Homo sapiens: one gene and its partner. The protein of the gene in region 2 interacts with the protein of the main gene of each other region in a pairwise test. Each region holds a gene or a part of one and is shown on either strand. Other genes may lie near its edges.

Evidence for each region.
Region 1: the proteins of DCLRE1B (region 2) and NDRG1 interact in binary tests that used the Homo sapiens proteins (3 or more experiments, as listed by UniProt).

The regions. Positions count from the first base shown.
Region 1 is NC_000008.11:133,236,792-133,246,832, forward strand, and holds the end of NDRG1 (protein NDRG1), read right to left. Parts: intron 9,873-10,041; coding exon 9,825-9,872; intron 7,600-9,824; coding exon 7,564-7,599; intron 5,284-7,563; coding exon 5,232-5,283; intron 2,329-5,231; coding exon 2,087-2,328; 3' UTR 384-2,086; downstream 1-383. UniProt on the Homo sapiens protein: Stress-responsive protein involved in hormone responses, cell growth, and differentiation. Acts as a tumor suppressor in many cell types. Necessary but not sufficient for p53/TP53-mediated caspase activation and apoptosis.
Region 2 is NC_000001.11:113,900,505-113,910,712, reverse strand, and holds the start of DCLRE1B (5' exonuclease Apollo), read right to left. Parts: upstream 5,388-10,208; 5' UTR 5,127-5,387; coding exon 4,938-5,126; intron 3,718-4,937; coding exon 3,552-3,717; intron 2,705-3,551; coding exon 2,522-2,704; intron 1-2,521. Other genes in the region: AP4B1 (AP-4 complex subunit beta-1), read left to right, coding at 5,996-6,108, 7,851-8,075, 8,828-8,958, 9,330-9,477.

The DNA of each region.
Region 1 (10,041 bases), on a different chromosome or scaffold from region 2:
AAATGCAGCTGGTCTGAATGCATTGCGAGTGTGAAACACACTAGAGTTCCTAGAATGAAAAAAGAATGCAAAATACCTGGTCAATAGTTTTTATAGAAGTGGTAATATTTTAGACGTCTTGAGATAAATGAAATGTATTATTAAAATTAATTTCATCTGTTTCTTTCCACTTTTGAAAATGTGGCCACTGGGAAATTAGAATTAACATATGAGCTGACTTAAATTTCTGCTGGACGTGATGCTCCGAGGAAAGAATTCCAGAGATGAGGGGCTGGGGTCCCCTAGGTGTCAAGGACGGGCAACCCCCCAGTGAAACAGCCATCCCTGCACTGCAATGTTTCACACACACAATCTCTCAGGGACAGAAAAAAGACACAAGCCGCTGCAAAGTTACAAATTTATTGGTCTGGAAATAAATACAAATATCTCATTAAGAAACTCCTCTGGAAAGACTTGTGCACAATAGTTTCCCATCCGTACTCAGCCTCTCTTGCCCCGATCCCCGACTTTTCTACTCAAGGCCAGGGAAGGCCTCCAAGGTGATGGGCGGCAGGTAACGAGTCATTGCCTCTCACGCCACCTGGAAGGCTGGACTACTTCCTCCTCCCAACTGCGGGGTCCCAGAAATCCTCGGGTCCCAGTGGCTGACTTACAATATTCAATTCACTCTGACCAAACTTCCTATGAGAAAATCCACGGTGAGCCAAAATGAAAAGTACAAGGCAGTAGTACAGGAACCTGGCAGCCGCACTGGCCGCCCAGAAACGTCAGTGGTGCTGCCCCATTCGGCGAAAGGTTAGGGAGCAGGAAAAGAGGAAGCAGGAGAGGGAAGGAAAGTCCCATGGAATATGTATTCCAGAATCCTTACATTTTCTCAGCCACCGCTCCCCACGTGAGTTCCCACCCCCACCCCGACAAGAGCAAAGAGTTCTGAGGATCCAAGAACGTGACCGGGTCAGACAGGTTCAGCTACTGAGTTCACGTTCCAGCCCAGCTGTCGAAGATTGAAAACTGGATTTAAGCCAATCACACAAAATTCCTGGAACCAAGCTGGGATCCACAGAAATCACAACTGCACTGGATCTCAACACAACAACAAGGAATCCCTTACATCGAGTAACCCCAATTCCACCCCCACCCCAGTGCTCCTACTCCGGCCCCTGCAAGGACACTCATCACAGCCAGGGCAGCTGTGGAATGTTGCCCTCCATTCTAAGGAATGCAAAACAAATCTAAATGATCTTCTCCCTGAACAAGAATAATCACTGGCTCATGTATCAGGGGTGGGAGGTTGGGGCTGTGGAGGAGAGGCAGAAAGCAGAACTAAAGCCTTCAAAAACCATGATGCCCAACGTTTGCTGAAATATTTTTGTCTGTAAAGCCAGGAGATTTTGTCGCCTGCTTTTGCTGCACATTAAGAGGATGCTAGAAAAATCAAGCTTGTTTGCTTCTGCATTCAAAGCTTTCTAGATGCACCAACTTTAAAAATCGGTTTCTTCAAGTTAACTACGTAGATTTGTTGTTCCAAATGCCTCTAGCCTCGACATGAATCCCACCTTTTCCCCCTTCCTGTTTTGCCTGTTTAAAAGAGGTGCCTGCATGTCACTATTACCCCCCTCCCCAAATGAGAAAAGGATTTTGTTTCCGGAAACTGGATCAGCTTCTCCTCAGTTAAAGAGGAAACGGGAAGTGGGCGGCTGGCCTTCTGACCAGGCACCCGTTTGAACCAGGATGCTCAGGGCGGCCTAGGCTTGGCTTTGTGAAGTGTGTGCTGCTACGCGTCTTGTTTTTGGCAGTTTGGTGTCTCTGAGGGAGGGGAGGAGAGTGGCAACCGGCCACTGGTTAATGGAAGAGGATGCGATGCGGAGATGCTTGCTTCCTTCCTTTGGTCCACCGCCACCCCGCCTTTGGAGAGGGCACCCACGTAATAGACCTCATTTGTCTCCACCAGAGCTCACTCTTACAAAATAAGCTTTGGATTAATACCGAGTTAGGCGCAGTATGGCAGGCAGGGGGCGAAAAGGGGCCGGGGAGGAGGGGGCCACTACAGAGATCAGAGTCCGGGGGCGGCAGCTGGGCAGGCCGCCTAGCAGGAGACCTCCATGGACTTGGGCCCGGCGCTGTTCCCAGCAGCACCCGAGTTGGGGGTGATGTCCAGGTGGGCCCCCTCGCTGGTGTGCGAGCGGCTGCGGGTGCCCTCGCTGGTGTGGGAGCGGCTTCGGGTGCCCTCGCTGGTGTGGGAGCGGCTGCGGGTGCCATCCAGAGAAGTGACGCTGGAACCAGAGGCTGTGCGGGACCGCATCAGGCGGGTCATGCTAGCCGAGGGCACTAGGGGAACAAGAGACAGCCGGTTAGAGGGCAGGAGACTGCCAGGTGAGGAGCCAGGCATGCCCGTCCACCAGCCACATGCTCTTCTACGTGCCAGCCCCAGAGAAGACTTGATCCCTGCAGCCATCCAGCTGCTGGGCCCCCGTCCTCTCCATGTCCACTCGGAGAGAGAGATGGCAAGGCCCAGATGCGGGAAGGAACTGCCGCAATCACACCATGAGTGACTTGAACCCAGATCTGGGTCTGAACCCCAATTCTGCCACCTGTTAAAAGCTGTGTAATTTTGAGAGTGTCCCCCTGAGCCTCCCTGTTCCCATCTGTAAAGCAAGTATGTTAAATACTGACCCCTGGTATCAGCACCTGTGTGTACGCCCATGACCCCATGCTGTCCATGATCACTGGAGCAGGGAGGACACCTGGGGTCAGTGGCCCTGCACATCACAGGTGGGGAAAGGGAGAGGGGCCACACGGCAAGTTCCCGGCATGGCTATTCGTTGTCATCTCTCCCAAAGAAGCCTGTCAGCCCAGGTGCTAACAAGGGCGCTGTCTATTCTTTGGGATCTTCTCTGAGACCTCAAATGCTCTTGCACATGGCACGTGCAAGTGGCACATGCTGATGGGGTAGCACGTGCTGATGGGGTGGAATGAGGAGGAACAATCCTGCCCACCTGTACCGGGTGGGACAGTGTCCCGGAAGATTCACACCTACCTGAAACTTCAGAAGGGAACCTTATTTGGAAATAGGGTCTTTGCATATGTAATTAGTTAAGGATCTTGAGATGAAATCATCCTGGGTTGAGAGGGAACCCTAAACCCAATGACTGTGATGTCCTTATAGAAACAGCACACAGGGATATGCAGGGGAGAAGTCCACGCAAAGACAGAGGCTGAGATTGGAGTGATGCAGCCACAAGCCACATAAAGCCAAGGATTGCTGGGGCCACCAGAAGCCAGGAAGAGGCATGGAAGGTTCTTCCACAGCAGCGTTGGAGGGAGCAAGGCCCTGCCCACACCTTGATTTTGGACTTTAGGCCTCCTGAACTTTGAGAGAATGGATTTCTATTGTTTTCAGCCACCCAGTTTGTGGAGATTTGTTACGGCAGCTTTAGGAAACTAGTACTCCACCCAACTGAAGCATCATGGCTAGGAGGCCACACTGAGTCAGACATCAGAAACAGGGGCAGTTGATCCACACCAAGCATGCAGGGCTTATGTTATCTCCTTGATAGGCACAGGGAGGGGCTTTTGATGTCAGGCACTCCCAAACAGAATTAATCCTTGCTGAATTGTCTTAAAGAGCTAGTTTTGAATTCAGAAAGAATTGGGGTCAATGCCACATCCGCAGCTCACATATTTCTCTGAGCCCCTACTTCTCACCCACAAATCTGGGATGTCTACTGAGCAGGATGAGAAGCGTACAGTGAGCACTGATGCCAGGTGTGCAAAGGGTTCATCAAGCCAGCACCCCGTGGTGTGCAGAAGGCCAGTGACCGGTTCCTTTCCTTCTCTTTGGCTGATGCCTTTGAGACCATAGCTCTTCCTGTTATTTTCCCCCCAAGACCTGCAGGAGGCTTCAGCTTTCTGGTAATAGAAGCCGATTTGGGGAGAAAGATGAGGTCTAGCATTCACTTCCTTTCTCTCCAGAACACACTCTCAAAGCAGAAATCCAAACCCTGGCGGGACCAAGACAAATGGGAGCCACAATTCACACCGTGCAGGGTAAAGCAGGACTGCCCCGCGGCTGTCTCCATGGCTGTCTCCAATGACAACCTTTGCCTGCAACTTCCGTCGGGGAAAGCAGGCTAGAAAGGCAGGAGCCCCACTAGCAGATAGCTTCTGTTGGAAGAGGGCACCTGGGGATGTGGATCCTGCCTGAGCCTGAGGCATGGAAATCAAACCTGCCAGCCTCGCCTTGCTAGAGCTAATCATGGCTAAGGCCAATGCTAGGACTGCAGTCAGCTTACCAAGCATACTCTTACTATACATGGGCAAACAGTTTAAGGAAATGATAAAAGGGATCAGAAGTTCAATAACTTCCTAGTAAGGGAGGACACACGAATTATAGTTCCAAGCAGTAGGGTCAGAAGAGCCACTAGTCATGTCAGGGCCGGACCATGGCTGACAGGCCCACAGCACTGAGTGTGGCTGCTGTTCAGCCGAGTTACAACTCGCCAGGGTCTGTCCTAGTCCTGGGACAGCACTTCTGGAAAAAAGGCTGTATGTGTCTAACAAACTATAACTGCAAAATAAGAACGAGTGAGTTCCTGAATGATGCTTCCAATGTATCCTCCACTTCCCAAAGCTCATGACTTGACTATGGCATGCTCCACCTTGAATGTAAGCAACTTTGTTAGCCACTTCCACAGAGCTTCACAGTCTTCAAAGAATTTCCACAGATCCGCCCTCTGCTCCCTGCTTACAACCCCGAAGCCTCAGCTTCATCACTGATAAGATGGGCTAAGAATATGTCAAAGGAGTACTGTGATGGTTCAGTGAGATAAAATAATGTGTTAGTAATCTTTCATCATCATCGACACCATCTTCATCATCACTGTAGCTAGTGGTCTCTTAAAACTTGTGATCAAAATTTTTAAAAATGTTATTGTTTCACTGTTGGTCATTGTCTTGGTGCTTAAAGGGACAGTCCTCATCTAAACCCCCCAAAATCCCTGGTGTGAAACAACTTCTATTCAACAAAGGAGGAAAAATGAGCCTCACTGATAAATGAGAGGCTAGATCCTCCAGGCTGCCACATGCCCTCCACACACCTAACTGTTTCCTCCCAGAAAGCTGAAGCTGGCCAGGGGGACACAGAATTGCTCATCCAAACCTGGCTCAGGACAGAGCACTTCCAATTCCGACACATGCCCCGACCCACTGCACACGGGGAATGCCATACTCACTGTATCCCATGCCCTGCACGAAGTACTTGAAGGCCTCAGCGAGCTTGGCCGGCTGCGAGAGACAAGGAGAGAAAATGCAGTCAGTTGCTGGGGAGCCAGATCACCCGAGGCCATGGGGGGCTGTGCCTGTGGTCACCTTCATTTGAGAGTTTGGCTCAAGACAAAAGCCATCACGTGTTGACAGGACAAAACACAAAAGTAAGAGTATGGGACAATGATGGGAAATTCACCCCACAGCTGTGGAACTTGGACAAGTTACATGACCTGTCTGAGCCAGTTTCCTCACCTGTAATACAGGGCAGAGTATCACAGCTATTTCTGTGTGTTTCTGAGGAGATTACCATCCACAAAGGGACATGTCTAACCCAGCAAGTGGAACATAACTGCATCGGCATCATGAGCCACTCCCAATGCAAGGGGCTTTGCTGCGTTCATTCATTTACTCCTGACAACCCCTCACGAGGTCAGTGCTACCTTAGATACATTTCATAGCTGAACAGATTTGGACAGGTAAATCCACTCAGGGTCCCACAACAAGTAAGTGGTGGGTCCTGTACATTAACCCAGGGCTCTCCAAACCTAAAACACTTGTTCTTGAGGCAAATCACTGTCAGCCTCAATAGCAGGCTGGCTGAAAGAAGGGATGATGGATAGATGGATGGGTGGAAAGAAAAGGATGGATGGAAAGAAGGAAGGAAAAAAGAAAGAAAGGAAGAGAAGGAAGGAAGGAAGGAAAGATGGATTAAAAAAAGAATTGATGGACAAAAGGAAGAAAAAAAGAGAAATATGAACAAAAGAAGGACAAATAAAAGGAAGAAAGGATATGAAGAAGAATGAATGGATGATGGTTGGATGGTTCGTTGGATGGGTAAACAAACCAATTAATTAACAACTAACTGGGCTACTTTAAGTGAAATGCGTATGGAATGCTGAGACCACATCCAGTTCTACCAGTTCTCTCAGTTCATTTAATGTAAACTTGGAGGTGAATGCTCAAATATCAAGGGCATACGTGCAAGGCGTATCTGTTCTTCAGTTAATCCCAACTGTTCTATCCAGTGCCCTGGGTCCTATTCTCCTGAGGCAGTGAGAGGGCACTGGTAGAGGCTGGGCTGACCCCCCTCCCTGCTCTCCACTAACTCCTGCCAGGATTCCACAAAGAGCCAAATGACATTTAAAAGAGCGGCTATGCTCAAATTGCCCTCTGGAATTTGTGTGACAGTGGAAGAAAGAGACAAGAGAAGCAGGTCAGGGCTGCAGGGAACAGGGACGCCTGTGTTCGAGATGGTGGAGAGAACCAAGAATACACGCTTGGGAATGAGAACACTTGGGCCCAATTTTAGCTCCAGTAATCATGGGCAATCTCTCTCAACTTTTGGCCTCAGTTTCCTCTTCTGTGACACTGGGATAAAATGCTTGCTCTTCCCACCTCTGAGGACTATTGCAAGGACCTAATTTAATCAAGGATGGGAAAACCCTGTGTAAACATACACCCAACCTGCAACGGCATGAGGACGACAGTGTCACACAGGAATTGCTCCCCCCTGTGCTGGTGTCCTCGAAGCCTGTGCTCGTTGCACTCCTCTGAAGCTCTGAAAATTCTTTTAATTATGACCAGGGTTACATCTGTTCTCATTTTAAGTAGAGAAAGAAAAAAAGGAGGAAGAAAGGAGGCAGGGCAGGTTTTGGATAAAAAAGATGACAAAAAACTCTATTTCATTTTAAGATGGAACACAAAACTGTCAGGATATAAAATTATAAGACAACAAATTAAAAGTTTACTTGTTAGGTTGGTGAGATTCTTTATAGGAGGGGAAATTGAAGGGATCAGTTACGTAGCAAACACATTACGTTGATCAATGTGTTTATTTGTACATGTGCACACACATTTACACATGCACACAGACATGTGTACACATGCACACACACAGACGTGTACACATGCACACACAGAAACATGCATGCACACACACACAATTTGGCTTAATCTCCTCCATGTCCCTCTGCTCTGGGCTGGAGCTCCTTGCGGCCCTTCACTCCAGCAGAAGCCCGTGGTCTTTGGGGCAGACATACCCAGATTCTGACCCATGATGACCAAGGTGTGTCTACTTGGCAAATCCCCCAACCTCTGTGAACCGCAGTATCACCTACTCCACAGGGGTTGGTTCCTAGGGAATCAGAGTCCTCCTATATAGCACCTTTTCCCAACAGTCCACAAACTGTCATCCGATGTCACAGCAAGGTAATGAGGGAACAGGTGTCACAGAGGCACATGCACTCCACCCAGGGGGAAGCGACAGCTGTATAATGCAAAAGCCAACATGGCACTCACCTGGGAGATCTGCGGGAGGCCGCCACAGTCCGCCATCTAGGAGAGAGGGAAGCTCGTTAGTGCCAAACACCACAGCCAAGGCCCTCTGCGCTCTATGAATTTTTTCCGAAAGGATGCCCATCCGCCCGCTGCCCTGCCCTGCCTTGTCCTGCCTTACAAAGGAGGAACAGGGTGGACCGTGGGTAGGGAACACTCCAGCCCCACCAGGCAAGGCTGCTGGTGTCTCCGTGGCAACCATCACTTGCAGCTTGCTACGTGCCAGGCACTATGCTAGGCCCTACAGATAATTTCACTCCATTCCCCAAGAACCATGGAAGGTACAGCTGTCCCATTTTACAGGCAGAAACTGGGCCAGGAAGAGCTTGAGGGACTCGCAAGGTTCCAGGCCAGGATCTCTCTGACCCGAAAGGGTTTGATAAACAAGACCCTCTTCATATATTCCCTTGAAAGTTTCCCTCAAAAGGAAGTGGTTGAATTTGGGTCTTCAGGCCGGATTCAGCTGACCAGTACCCTTCCTAAATGGTGGACGTTCAAAGTCCCTGTGAAATCACCGAACCGCAAGAGGCCATTGCAGGCTGTGAGACTGTGCAGCCAGCCTGGAAATGGGCAGCGCTGACGGCAAGGGAGCAGGGGGAGGCTGCGGGGAGGGTGGCCTGGGGTGAAACGGGGCTGGAGGAGTTCATGGGAGTGGTGAGGCTGTGGGCATCCTACAGCCCAGGGCGCCTCAAGTCTGGACCCCCAACACTAGCCACAAAGCGACACTGACCTGGGGCAGCCCTCAGCTCAACCAGCACGCAGGGAGCAGGATGCCCGAATTTTTCCTCCAGGCGGGGCACTCAGCACATTAGACTGACGCTGTGGAAGTCTCCAGAATCAGGCCTAAGTGAGTTCTGTTTCTGGATCTACCATCAAATCGGCCACCCCACCTCAGTCAGGCCACCTACCCTTTGCTGTAGGTTGTGGTTGAATTGTGTCCCCAAAATAGACATACTGAAGTCCTAACCCCAGTACCTATCACTGTGGCTATACTTGGAAATAGGGTCTTTGCAGGTAAAATCAAGTTAAGATGAGGTCATATTGGATTAGAGCGGGCCCTAAAGCTAACGGCTGATGTTATTAAAAGAAGAAGGAAATTTGGACATAGACGCAGAGATACAATCGGGAGAGTGCTGAGTGAGGATGGAGGCAGAGACTGGAGTGATGTGTCTACTAGCTAAGGTGAACCAAGTGTGGCCAGCAGCCACCAGAAGCTGGAAGAGGCAGGCAGCATTCTCCCCTAGCACCTTCAGAGGGAGCACGGCCCTGCCCACACCTTGATTTCGGACTTTTAGCTTCCAGAACTAAAAGGGAATAAATATCTGTTGCTTTAAGCCACCCATTTTGTGATACTTGTGACAACCGCCCTCAAAGTACGGCATTATGCAAGCTTGACGCCCAGCAGCTTCTAATCTTGCAATTTCCTTTTGAGGGAATCTTGAAAGAAAATCTATGTAAAGAGCCCAATACAGGAAAACAGCCTCCCACTCAATAAGTATCGGACACCCCCTACATGCCTTTCAAAGGCATTCTACTTCTATGGGGGAAGTTGAGGGCACGGTGACCTACAGATGCCACCTCTTTGTCCTTCCCCCAGTGCGAGGGAGCCGCCTCATCTCCACCCAGGTCCCGCCTGGTCATCTGCCCCTGCAGGGGTGCACCCCGGCTGAGAGGCCCCTCTGAAAGGTTCCCACTCTTGGGCTGCATCTCCGGACGAGGCCGCCACAAACAGCCAGTGGTTTGCATTGTGCAATCAGTCATAACTGGCAAAGGACTGGCGGAGGTTGCTACAGACACTCAAATCCAGCTGCGAGTGAGCTGGCTCACCATGTGCTCAGATGAACTTGCTGGACAAAGTCCTGACCTTCCCCGGCTGTGGGACACGTCTCTTCTTATTGTGACAAGCAGAGAGCCCCTCTTGGAGGAATGTCCTGGCCCCAGCCTATGGAGGGCCCTTGCCAAGCCATCCCTGGTCCCTCTATCCCCAAAGCCCCCAGACCAGCAGCCTATTGATTCCTGCAGTCCCAGAGAAGGATCCCTCATCTTTGCAGCCTCAGATCACCAGTCAGCACCCAATATATGTTCATAAACAGATAGATTAAATCATTAATTCTATAGTTTCTGATCGTGTGCCTTGCCTTTTTCAAGCCTAACTCAATGTTGCAGAAAACGTCTGAGAGTTTCTAAGAAATAACAAACACGAACCCCCACTGTTTTCCCTGTACCTTGAGGAGAGTGGTCTTTGTTGGGTCCAATTTTGAGTTGCACTCCACCTGCACAAGAGGGAGGAAATCTGTTAATTTTCTACGTGAAGCCAAAGCCAAAACATCTCCCCCTTCTCCGCCACTCTGCCACCGTCACCAGAAACTCCAGTATTTCTGCTGGCAAAGAAGAAAGTATGTGGAGTTATTGGGATTCAGCAGATGTGGCTTGAAATCCCAG
Region 2 (10,208 bases):
ACCAACCTGGGCAACCTGGCAAGACCCTGTCTCTACAAAAATAAACAAATAAGCATGTTGGTGCACGCCTATAGTTCCTGGTACACAGGAAGCTGACGCGGGAGGATCACTTGAGTCCGGGAGGTCCAGGCTGCAGTGAGCTGTGATCATGCCACTACCCTCCAGCCTGGGCAACAGAGTGAGACCCTGTCTCTTAAAAAAAAACAAAAAAAGTATACAGTATTGTATCTAACAGGTGATGGAGTTAGGGAACGTTAGGCTAAATCTTAAAGGATGGGCAAGGTTAACCTGGCAAGGAAAGGGTAGAAAGGGTATAGTGGAAAACATTTTAAGAGGGGTCAGTTTGCTGTTACTAAAGTAAAAAAGGAATTGATAAGAAATGATACCAGAGAGGCAAGCAAGGGCCATATAATAGAGCGTCTTATATGTACCGCTAAGAAGCTTGGACTTCATTGTGTAAGTGAAGGGGAGCCACTGAGTGTGAAGCAGGAAAATGGCTAATTCTAATCATAAGAATAATATGCTCAGAGCAGGGCTTTAAAAAGAAAAATATGGTAATAATATTATTTGACTGCCAGGATGAGAAGAAGCTGGAGTGGAAGTTTCAATTGAAGGGCCCAAATAGTACTTACAGAGAAAGAAATGGAGACATTAATTTGGGAAATGGTTATGGTAACAGATATGGGAGATGTTGTTTAATAGCTGTTCTCAGACTTTTTCTGAAGAAGTTTCAAATCCACAACCAGATTGTGAACGCCATAAAAAGAAGTATATATTATTTATATCCACTTTATTCCTGATTATGGTTCAAAATCTCACTCCTTGGGCACAAATGGAGCGGATTTTTCTTCTCTCTATATATATTCCCACTTCCACCTCCCCACAGGTCCTTCCCTACCAGACTGTGAGCCCTCCAAGTCAGAGACTATATTTTATTCATCTTTATATCCCCACTGCCTATTGGATACTTGGTACTTAGTGGGTAGAGGCTTATTACATATTTGCAAAATTAATTAAGGCTTACTATAGCATCCTCCTAGCCAGCTTTGCTTTTTTGAGAAAATTCTGCATTAAAATATTAAGAATGGTTAGGTCTTTATAAGTAGCTAAGCAATCCTGAGAGTAGAGGATATTTCTCAATCGATTTGGTAGTCACCCTGGAAGTTATATAATTTTTTCAATGCCTTTGTTTAGTCTCATTTTGAAACTCCTTTCAGAGTTGAGACATGTCCTTTTCAAATATTTATAATGGTGGCAAGTCTTTGTCCTTTTGTAGACTCACAAATTTGGAAACAACCAAAAAAGTAATTTAGAACCAAATCTATTACATTTATTTATTTTATAAAACAAAAATGTATTTTCATAAACTATTCCAAATGGCAACTCCAAGAAAGAGTCCTCAACAATGTTTTATACTATTTATAATCAGTACAACAAGCACAAACCTGTTTTTTCAGTATACTTAATTTAAAGCACAACGCTCACTTAAATATCTATGTTCTGATAAATTTCATTCATTCATATTGAATGCTTCTGTGTCAGGCATTAGTGTAGGCATTTGTGATACACCCATAATAAAACAGAGACTGCCATAGTGGAATTCACATTCTAGCAGGGGGAATCAGACAATAAAAAGTCCAATAAATACATAAATTATAGAATATATTGCAAGGTGATGAGTGCATATTGTCCCTCTTCTACTTAAAATCCTTCAATAGCTCTTGGTTGGGTTTAGGATCAAGTCCAAAATGGCTTAACAGCACTTCAGCCCCTCTTGCCTTTTCAGCCTCCTTGCCCACTGTGTGCCTGTCATACTGACTGCTGCTTCTCTGTTCCACAAACACACAAAGTCTCTTCCCATTTCCAGTGATGCTCTTAAGGAGTTTATGCTTGTGTGTGTGTGTGTGTGCACGCGTATGTGCATGGGCCAGAGGAAGTGCATGATAGACAACAAGTAAGCAATAGCATATTTAAAAATATATATAGTATATGAGTGCTATAAAAAAATGAAAAAAATGAATTGGTATGGATGATCAGGAGTTGGGAATGGGGATGGTGGGCAGGTTGCAGTTTTACTTATTTCATTCATTCATTCATTTATTGAGACAGGGTCTTGCTCTGTCATCCAGGCTGGAGTGCAATGGCACTTACATGGCTCACTGCAACCTTGACCTCCTACTGGACCCAGGCAATCCTCCTGTCTCAGTCCCCTGTGTAGCTGGGACCACAGGCACGCACCATCGTGCCCAACTGATTTTTAAATTTTTTGTAGAGACAGGGTCTTGCCATGTTGCCCAAGCTGGTCTCAAACGCCTGGGCTCAAATGACCCTCCCATCTTGGCCTCCCAAAGTGCTGGGATTATAGGCATGAACCACCACACCTAGCCAGGTTGCAATTTTAAATAAGGTGGTCAGTGTAGGAGAAAGTGAGAACTGCACAAAGATCTGAAAGATGTGAGAATCCTTAAAGAATCTAGTTCACTATCTACAGGTGACAGGAAACTGAAAGGAAACAACTCACCAATCTTTATGTTATGTTGTGGGTGTTTTCGAATGAGCTGGACAATCTGGTGGGCAGCTTCTTGTCGGGAAGGAAGAACCAGGGCTGGATTGCAATTGGTGTTGTCTAGGTATAAAGTATGGATCTGTTTCCCCAGTGTCAGGGCTGGCTCCTTTAGCATGGATGGTGTGTATCGAAAATCACCTGGAGGAATATGTACATGGGGGCAGAAGGTCAGAGACAAAAGAATAGAAGACAAGCCTCTCCTACCTCCAACAATAGACAGGCGTTTGCTTACTAGTCTGTGAAAAAACTATTATGTAGCCTGGCACTGAACTAGGCAGTATAGCTGCATGGTTTCTTTGTTGTAATGTCTCCATCCTACTCCTATTTTTCAATTACTCTTCACAAGGTTCGGACCCTTAAAGAGTGGGAAATCGGCCAGGCGCAGTGGCTCACACCTGTAATCCCAGCACTTTGGGGGGCCGAGCCAGGTGGATCACCTGAGGTCAGGAGTTCGAGACCAGCCTGGCCAACATGGTGAAACCCCGTCTCTACTAATAGTAAATACGAAAATTAGCTGGGCGTGGTGGCAGGCGCCTGTCATCCCAGCTACTTGGGAGGCTGAGGCAAGAGAATCACTTGAACCCAGAAGGCGGAGGTTGCAGTGAGCCACAATCACGCCACTGCACTCCAGCCTGGGTGACAAGAGTGAAACTCCGTCTCAAAAAGAAGAAGGAAAAAAAAACAGTGGGAAATCAGTTGAGATGGGGTCACTATGCTCATATGTGATGAAGTTAGAAGGCCTCCAGCGCCTCCAGACTTCTATTGAGTTAAGGCTGCTCAAGAAAAGTCTGCCAGGTGTGGTGGCTTGTGCCAATAATCCTAGCTACTGTGGAGGCTGAAGCGGGAGGATTGCTTGAGGTCAGGAGTTTGAGACCAGCCTCGGCAACACTGCGAGGCCCCAGTCTATACATTAAAAAAAAAAAAAAAAAAAAAAAAAAAAAACATCTAGTCTGGAGAAGTCACTGGGATTCCTTGAGAGGCCCACCTGTGTAGAGGATGGTTCCAAAATATCCTTCAAAGAGAAACATGACAGAACCAGGACAGTGATTGGCATCGAGGAGGGTTACGGTCATGGTCTCTTGTCCAATTTCATCTAGGGGTAATACATGGCTCTCACCAACCTCCAGGGCTTGGATCCATTGCTTAGATACCTGAGAAAACAGTTAGTCATCCCAGTGACCACTGACTCCTCTCCGTTACCTCCCCGGGTCAGGGACTATCCCTTACATGAATCAGGAAAGCTGACCAAATCCTGAGCCACCGGGAGCAGAAGCTGTAATGGGGATTCCCAAGCAATCTGCCCTTCCTCCTTCCACTTCCCATCCCACCCTTTGTACAATTTAAGAGTTCAGCTGGCCGGGCGTGGTGGCTCACGCCTGTAATCCCAGCACTTTGGGAGGCTGAGGCGGGTGGATCACGAGGTCAGGAGATCGAGACCATCCTGGCTAACACGGTGAAACCCCGTCTCTACTAAAAAATACAAAAAAAATTAGCCAGGCGTGGTGGCGGGCGCCTGTAGTCCCAGCTACTCGGGAGGCTGAGGCAGGAGAATGGCGTGAACCCGGGAGGCGGAGCTTGCAGTGAGCCGAGTTTGCGCCACTGCACTCCAGCCTGGGCGACAGAGCGAGACTCCATCTCAAAAAAAAAAAAAGAGTTCAGCAAACAGTCTAGTCAGCAATTCCCAAACTTACTCCTGATCTTAATCTCTTGGAGACTTAAGGGTGGGGTGGGGAGAGAGCTGGAGAACCACCCAGCACATTAGGTGGATTCTTAAGATGAGGCAAGTTTAGGCGGGGCGTGGTGGCTCACGCTTGTAATCCCAGCACTTGGGGAGGCTGAGGCGGGCGGATCACTTAAGGTCAGGAGTTAGAGAACAGCCTGGCCAACATGGTGAAACCCCGTCTCCACAAAAAATACAAAAAATTAGCTGGGCGTGGTGGCGTGCGCCTGTAATCTCAGCTACTCAGGAGGCCGAGACAGGAGAATCGCTTGAACCCGGGAGGCGGAGGCTGCAGTGAGCCGAGATTGCGCCACTGCACTCCAGCCTGGGCAACAGAGCGAGACTCCGTCTCAAAAAAAAAAAAAAAAAAAAAAAAAAAAGGCAAGTTTGGGAAACATCGGCCTAGCTTACTTATAAAGGTAGGAATAGTTTCCTTGGCTGGATTAAAATATCTCCTCAACTTATGGCTAACTATCTCAAGTTGGTCACTTCGAAAACACGTTCCTATTCTGGGTTAAAGATGCATTTTTGGGTTCAAACAACTTCCAAATCAGTTTTCGTGGCCCCCATTCTATGACTCCAAGAATGACAGGTTGAAGTCCCAACCCAGATGCCTGGACCAGCTCTCGGAGACCGACTCCAGCCCCATACCTGTAGGTGACGATGCAAGAGGTGGGCTGTAATTGGGGAGCAGTAGAGGGGCCGGGCCCAGGTGCTAGACAGGCCCACGGTGTGGTCCGAGTGCATGTGAGACAAGAAGAAGAGACGTGCGGTGCCAGCCCGGCGCAGGCTCCAGAAGTCCACTGCGATGGGCGTATGGGGGATCAGGACCCCATTCATGGTGGTAGGGTTGGAGTCACCAGTGGGATCTTCTCCACGGGGGCAGGGCTCCTGCGTGAGGCTTCCACAACGGCGTCCCGATAAAAGTCATGCTGGGGCAAGAACAGGGCCAGAGACCCTAAGGGAAAGAGCCCAGCAGAGCAATAAGTTACCAGAGTGGGCAGAAAAAGGAAGTCACCCTGCCCGCTGGAGCCCAAATCGCGGAGGGCGCTGGACACTCCCAACCGCGCGGGAGCGGAGGCCGAGCCGGGCACTCAAAGCGCGCGCTGCAGGGAGGAGACAGGCCAAAGTAGCCGATTTCCGATTGCCCGCCGCAGCTCCACCAGAGGGAGCCGCGCAGCTGCGCCTGGAGAGTGAGAGGTTGGGGGAAGGGCATCCTAAGGTCGGAGTCGGGACTACGCTTAGCGCTCGCTCGCGGGGAGACCGGCAGCGGTCTTCTGTTTGGTCTCTTGACAAGGGGGCGGGACTTCCGCAGAAAGCAAGATTGGGCCTATCCGCGATGAGAACGGCGTGGAGGGGGAATTAAGGCTGGAACTGGAGAGGGAGGGGTCTGCGGTCAGTCGGACGCGGCGCTGGAAATCCGGCGGAGGACCTAGAAGTAGCGGGAGCGATCTGTGGGCGGGGCGAACGGCCTGCCGGCCGACGGTAGGGCCTGAAGAGCCTAGGGTGGGGCTCGCGGTGTCGCGGAGGGCGTGGAAGTGTGTCAGGGCCAGCGTGCCGGCCCTACGGAAGCCGAGCCTGAGGCGAGATCTCGCCTTTTGTATTTTCACTGACTCATATTTCCTTTACTCAGGCTCCCACATCAGGACGAGAAGGAGCCCTCGAGTTACCGTGGGAGCTGTGGGAGCTGCCCTGTGACTCTTAGGAAGATGCCGTACCTTGGCTCCGAGGACGTGGTGAAGGAGCTGAAGAAGGCTCTGTGCAATCCTCACATTCAAGCTGATAGGCTGCGCTACCGGAATGTCATCCAGCGAGTGATTAGGTATCACCTACCTCCCTTCGCGTGCTAACTGCTCCCTTTGCAATCCCCATCAGGGCTCACTAGCCCCAGTCTCTCTGAAAGGGTGAATTAGCTTTCACACGTGGCAGTTATATGGTTCGGTCTTCGTCCTGCTGCTTTGGAGTACCATGTCAGTCTCCCCTCTGCAGCATCTTTTACTCAGCTGGGTAGTTTCCTCCATATCACGGGCTTGAGCAATTACTGGTGACTCTTGGATCTATAATATAGCTAGTACAGACTTCCTTTTTTAGCTTCAGACCCACGTATCCCACTGCCTGCTTGGCATTTCCACGTGCGTGGTTTATCAAAAGTATGTCCGAAATAGCCCGGACATTCTTCCGTCTTCCTCAAACCTGTTCAGCTTACATTTGTGTTGATGAATGCCACCAGCAGCCGACTATGCGTGGGAGCCAACCTTGAGGACACCTGATCTCTCACTTCTTATGTCAGATGGTTTGAATTCATAATTCTAAATATCCATCCTCTCTTGTTTATTAGCATTGTTGTTCTGGTCCAGGCCTTCATCAATAAAGCAATTGCAGCAGCTTACTAGTAGGCCACTTTGCCTCATTTGAGACAGAATTTTTCCATTATACATACCTGAACACATAACTCTTGCCTACAGCTATGGTTCACAAACTTTACTATGCATAAAAATCCCTTGGGGTGCTTTTTGTCATCCAGTCCAGGGACTGATTCTGATTTCAGTAGGGTGGGAGGGAACCCAGGAATCTGTATTTTTAATAAACATTTCAGTTGGTTCCAGTAGGAGACCAGTCTGAGAAACAATAAAGTCCAAACTTATCACAGCACCCAAGGAACAAGCTGTTAATTCAACTACCTACAGACTCTTAAAAAAATGTGTGCTGCTCCTGCTCATGTCTACTTACCTCATAGCATGTATCTTTACCTTGCTATTACATCTGCCTAGTGAGCTCCTGCTCATTCAGCTAAAGTATTACTTCCTCTGTGAAGAAACATTTTCTGACTTCCTGCCAGTGTCAGACCTCTGAATCCCCTCTACACCTTGTACAATACTTCTGTTTAAGTACTTATCTATCATACTGTAATTAACGGTATTCTCATCTGGCTCATTAATAGATTTGAAGTTCCTAGAGGTTTGAGACCACACCTTCTTCAAGATTATGTCCCAAGAGCATGTCCCTGGATGTAAAAGTTGAATTTCACCAAAGTACTAGGGATTCAATAAGTGTTTGTTGAGGCTGGGTGCGGTGGCTCACGCTGGTAATCCCAGCACTTTGGGAGGCCAAGGCGGGTGGATCACCTGCAGTCAGGAGTTCGAGACCAGCCTGGCCAACATGGAGAAACCCCGTCTCTACTAAAAATACAAAAATTAGCTGGGCGTGGTGGCACGCACCTGTAGTCCCAGCTACTCGGGAGGCTGAGGCAGGAGAATCGCTTGAACCTGGGAAGCGGAGCTTATAATGAGCCGAGATTGTGCCACTGCACTCTAGCCTGGGTAACAGAGCAAGACTCTGTCTCAAAAATAATAATAAGTGTTTGTTGAATGAATAGAAGAATAATGTTTATTGTAGGCCTATGGTATGAAGTACTGTGTGATATAATAGACAAGGTAATCCTGGCTGCTACCCTCTAAGAGATCACAATCTAGTTGGGTAATCAGGAGATATGTAAGTAAAACTCCCTCCATTGTAAGTTGGGGATTTTGCATTTTACTTCCTTCTGTCATGTGCGTTGTTCAGGTACATGACTCAAGGCTTGGACATGTCTGGTGTTTTTATGGAAATGGTGAAGGCCAGTGCCACTGTAGATATTGTCCAGAAGAAGTTGGTTTATCTGTACATGTGCACATATGCTCCCCTGAAACCAGATCTGGCTCTCCTGGCCATCAATACGCTGTGCAAAGACTGCTCAGACCCCAATCCAATGGTGCGAGGGCTGGCGTTACGGAGCATGTGTAGCCTCAGGTGAGTACCCTCTTCTCTGTCTGGTCCTAAATGGCTGATGAATTCAAGTGATCACAGGGTAGGTTTTTAAAGAGGATAATTTATTTGAGCTCCTTAATACTGGGGAAAACATTATTGTACCCTGAACTCAGATTTTCAGCCACTGCTTTGGCTTAATAACCTGTATCATATAATTTTATTAGAGGGAGTTTTTGATTCTCACTCTAAGTAAAATAGTCCTCAGTTTTGGTTAAATATCTCTAAACAATTATGTGTATATCTTTTTTTGCTGCCTGTGCATCATTATTCCAAATGAAAAGTCAAATTAGGCTGGGCACAGTGGCTCATGCCTGTAGACCCAGCACTTTGGGAGGCTTAGACAGGAAGATTGCTTGAGCCCAGGAATTTGAGACCAGCTGGGCAAGATGGTGAGAGCCTATATCTACAAAAAATTAAATGGGCATGGTGACACGCACCTGTAGTCTCAGCTACTAGGAAGGCTGAGGCAGGAGGATGGCTTGGGCCCGGGAATTCAAGGCAGCAGTGAGCTATGATCGGGCCACTGGGTGACAAAGTGAGACCCCATCTTGAAAAAAACAAGAAAAAAACAGAAAAGTCAAATTATGGCTTTTTAAGCTTGATAGAGGCTTTCTGCAATTCTTCATGATCTGATGGGTGCAGCATCTACTAAACCATCTGTTAGGTGAACAGGGGCTGAGGTATGTCAAAATTAGTATTTCAGAATCTGGCTAACTCCAGGATGTGTTGCTTAGGATGCCTGGTGTGCAGGAGTATATACAACAGCCTATTCTCAATGGTCTGCGGGATAAGGCTTCATATGTCAGGAGAGTGGCAGTCCTTGGATGTGCCAAGATGCATAATCTTCATGGAGACTCTGAAGTAGGTAAGTTCAGTGTAATCCATCATGGTCAATGTGCCTCCATTATGTATAACTTTAAAAAAGATTGTGTGGCTTTGGTAGAAAATAATAATGTGGCCCCAGTTCTGTACATATCTCTTTAAGTAGGATGCAGGGCTTGGTATCTTCTGGAGATGAGAAGTCCTTTCTCTGGGGCCCCAATGAGATCCTTTGTATTAGCTGCTTAGAACAGTCTGGACATGGCAGTTTTTTTTTTGCCTTGCACTTTAGTGTGGCCTTTGTCATTTTTGTAGCAGAGAAGTTCAACTTTGTCTACCTGGAGCTATTACTCTGGCTACATCCTTGTTACTCTGAAGCTTTCCTTCTTTATCTAAGAACTTTGTTCTTTTTTATAGATGGTGCCCTGGTAAATGAATTATACAGTTTGCTGCGTGACCAGGATCCAATTGTAGTTGTGAACTGCTTGAGGTCTCTAGAGGAAATTCTGAAACAGGAAGGAGGCGTTGTCATCAATAAGCCCATTGCTCACCATCTCTTAAATCGGTTTGGATGCCTCAGCACTCTTTTTATTATGAGATCTGCTACCTTGTGGGATCTTGTTGATGTATTAAAGTATTGAACAACTTATGTGGGGTAGAAAAGAAAGTTAACCATTATTATTATTATTATTTGAGACGGAGTTTTGCTCTTGTTGTCTAAGCTGGAGTGCAATGGCGCTATCTCGGCTTACCGCAACCTCCGCCTCCTGGGTTCAAGCAATTCTCCTGCCTCAGCCTCCCGAGTAGCTGGGATTATAGGCATGCGCCACCATGCCCGGCTAATTTTGTATTTTTAGTAGAGACAGGGTTTCACCATGTTGGTCAGGCTGGTCCCAAACTTCTGACCTCAGGTGATCCGCCCGCCTCAGCCTCCCAAAGTGCTGGGATTACAGACGTGAGCCACTGCGCCCGGCCAGTTAACCACTATTAACTCCCTCACATTCCACTGAGAGAATTTCTTTTATTTGCCTTACTTTCCCTTATTGATATAGGGAAATAGAAATATACTGTGGGAATAGGTTCTACCCTTCTCTAGTCATGTCCCCCAAACTAAGCCATTTATAGTGTCTTAAAATGTAAGGAACCTGGACCCAGTGTATGCTGATCATGTCTTTGGTCTTAGAGGAGTGTGCATTTGTATTAACAACTCATCTTGGAATTTTAAGCCTTTTTTGTGTAAACTTTAAATAGTACATGAAAAGTGACTTAATTATGGCACAGCCTATTTTTAAGAAT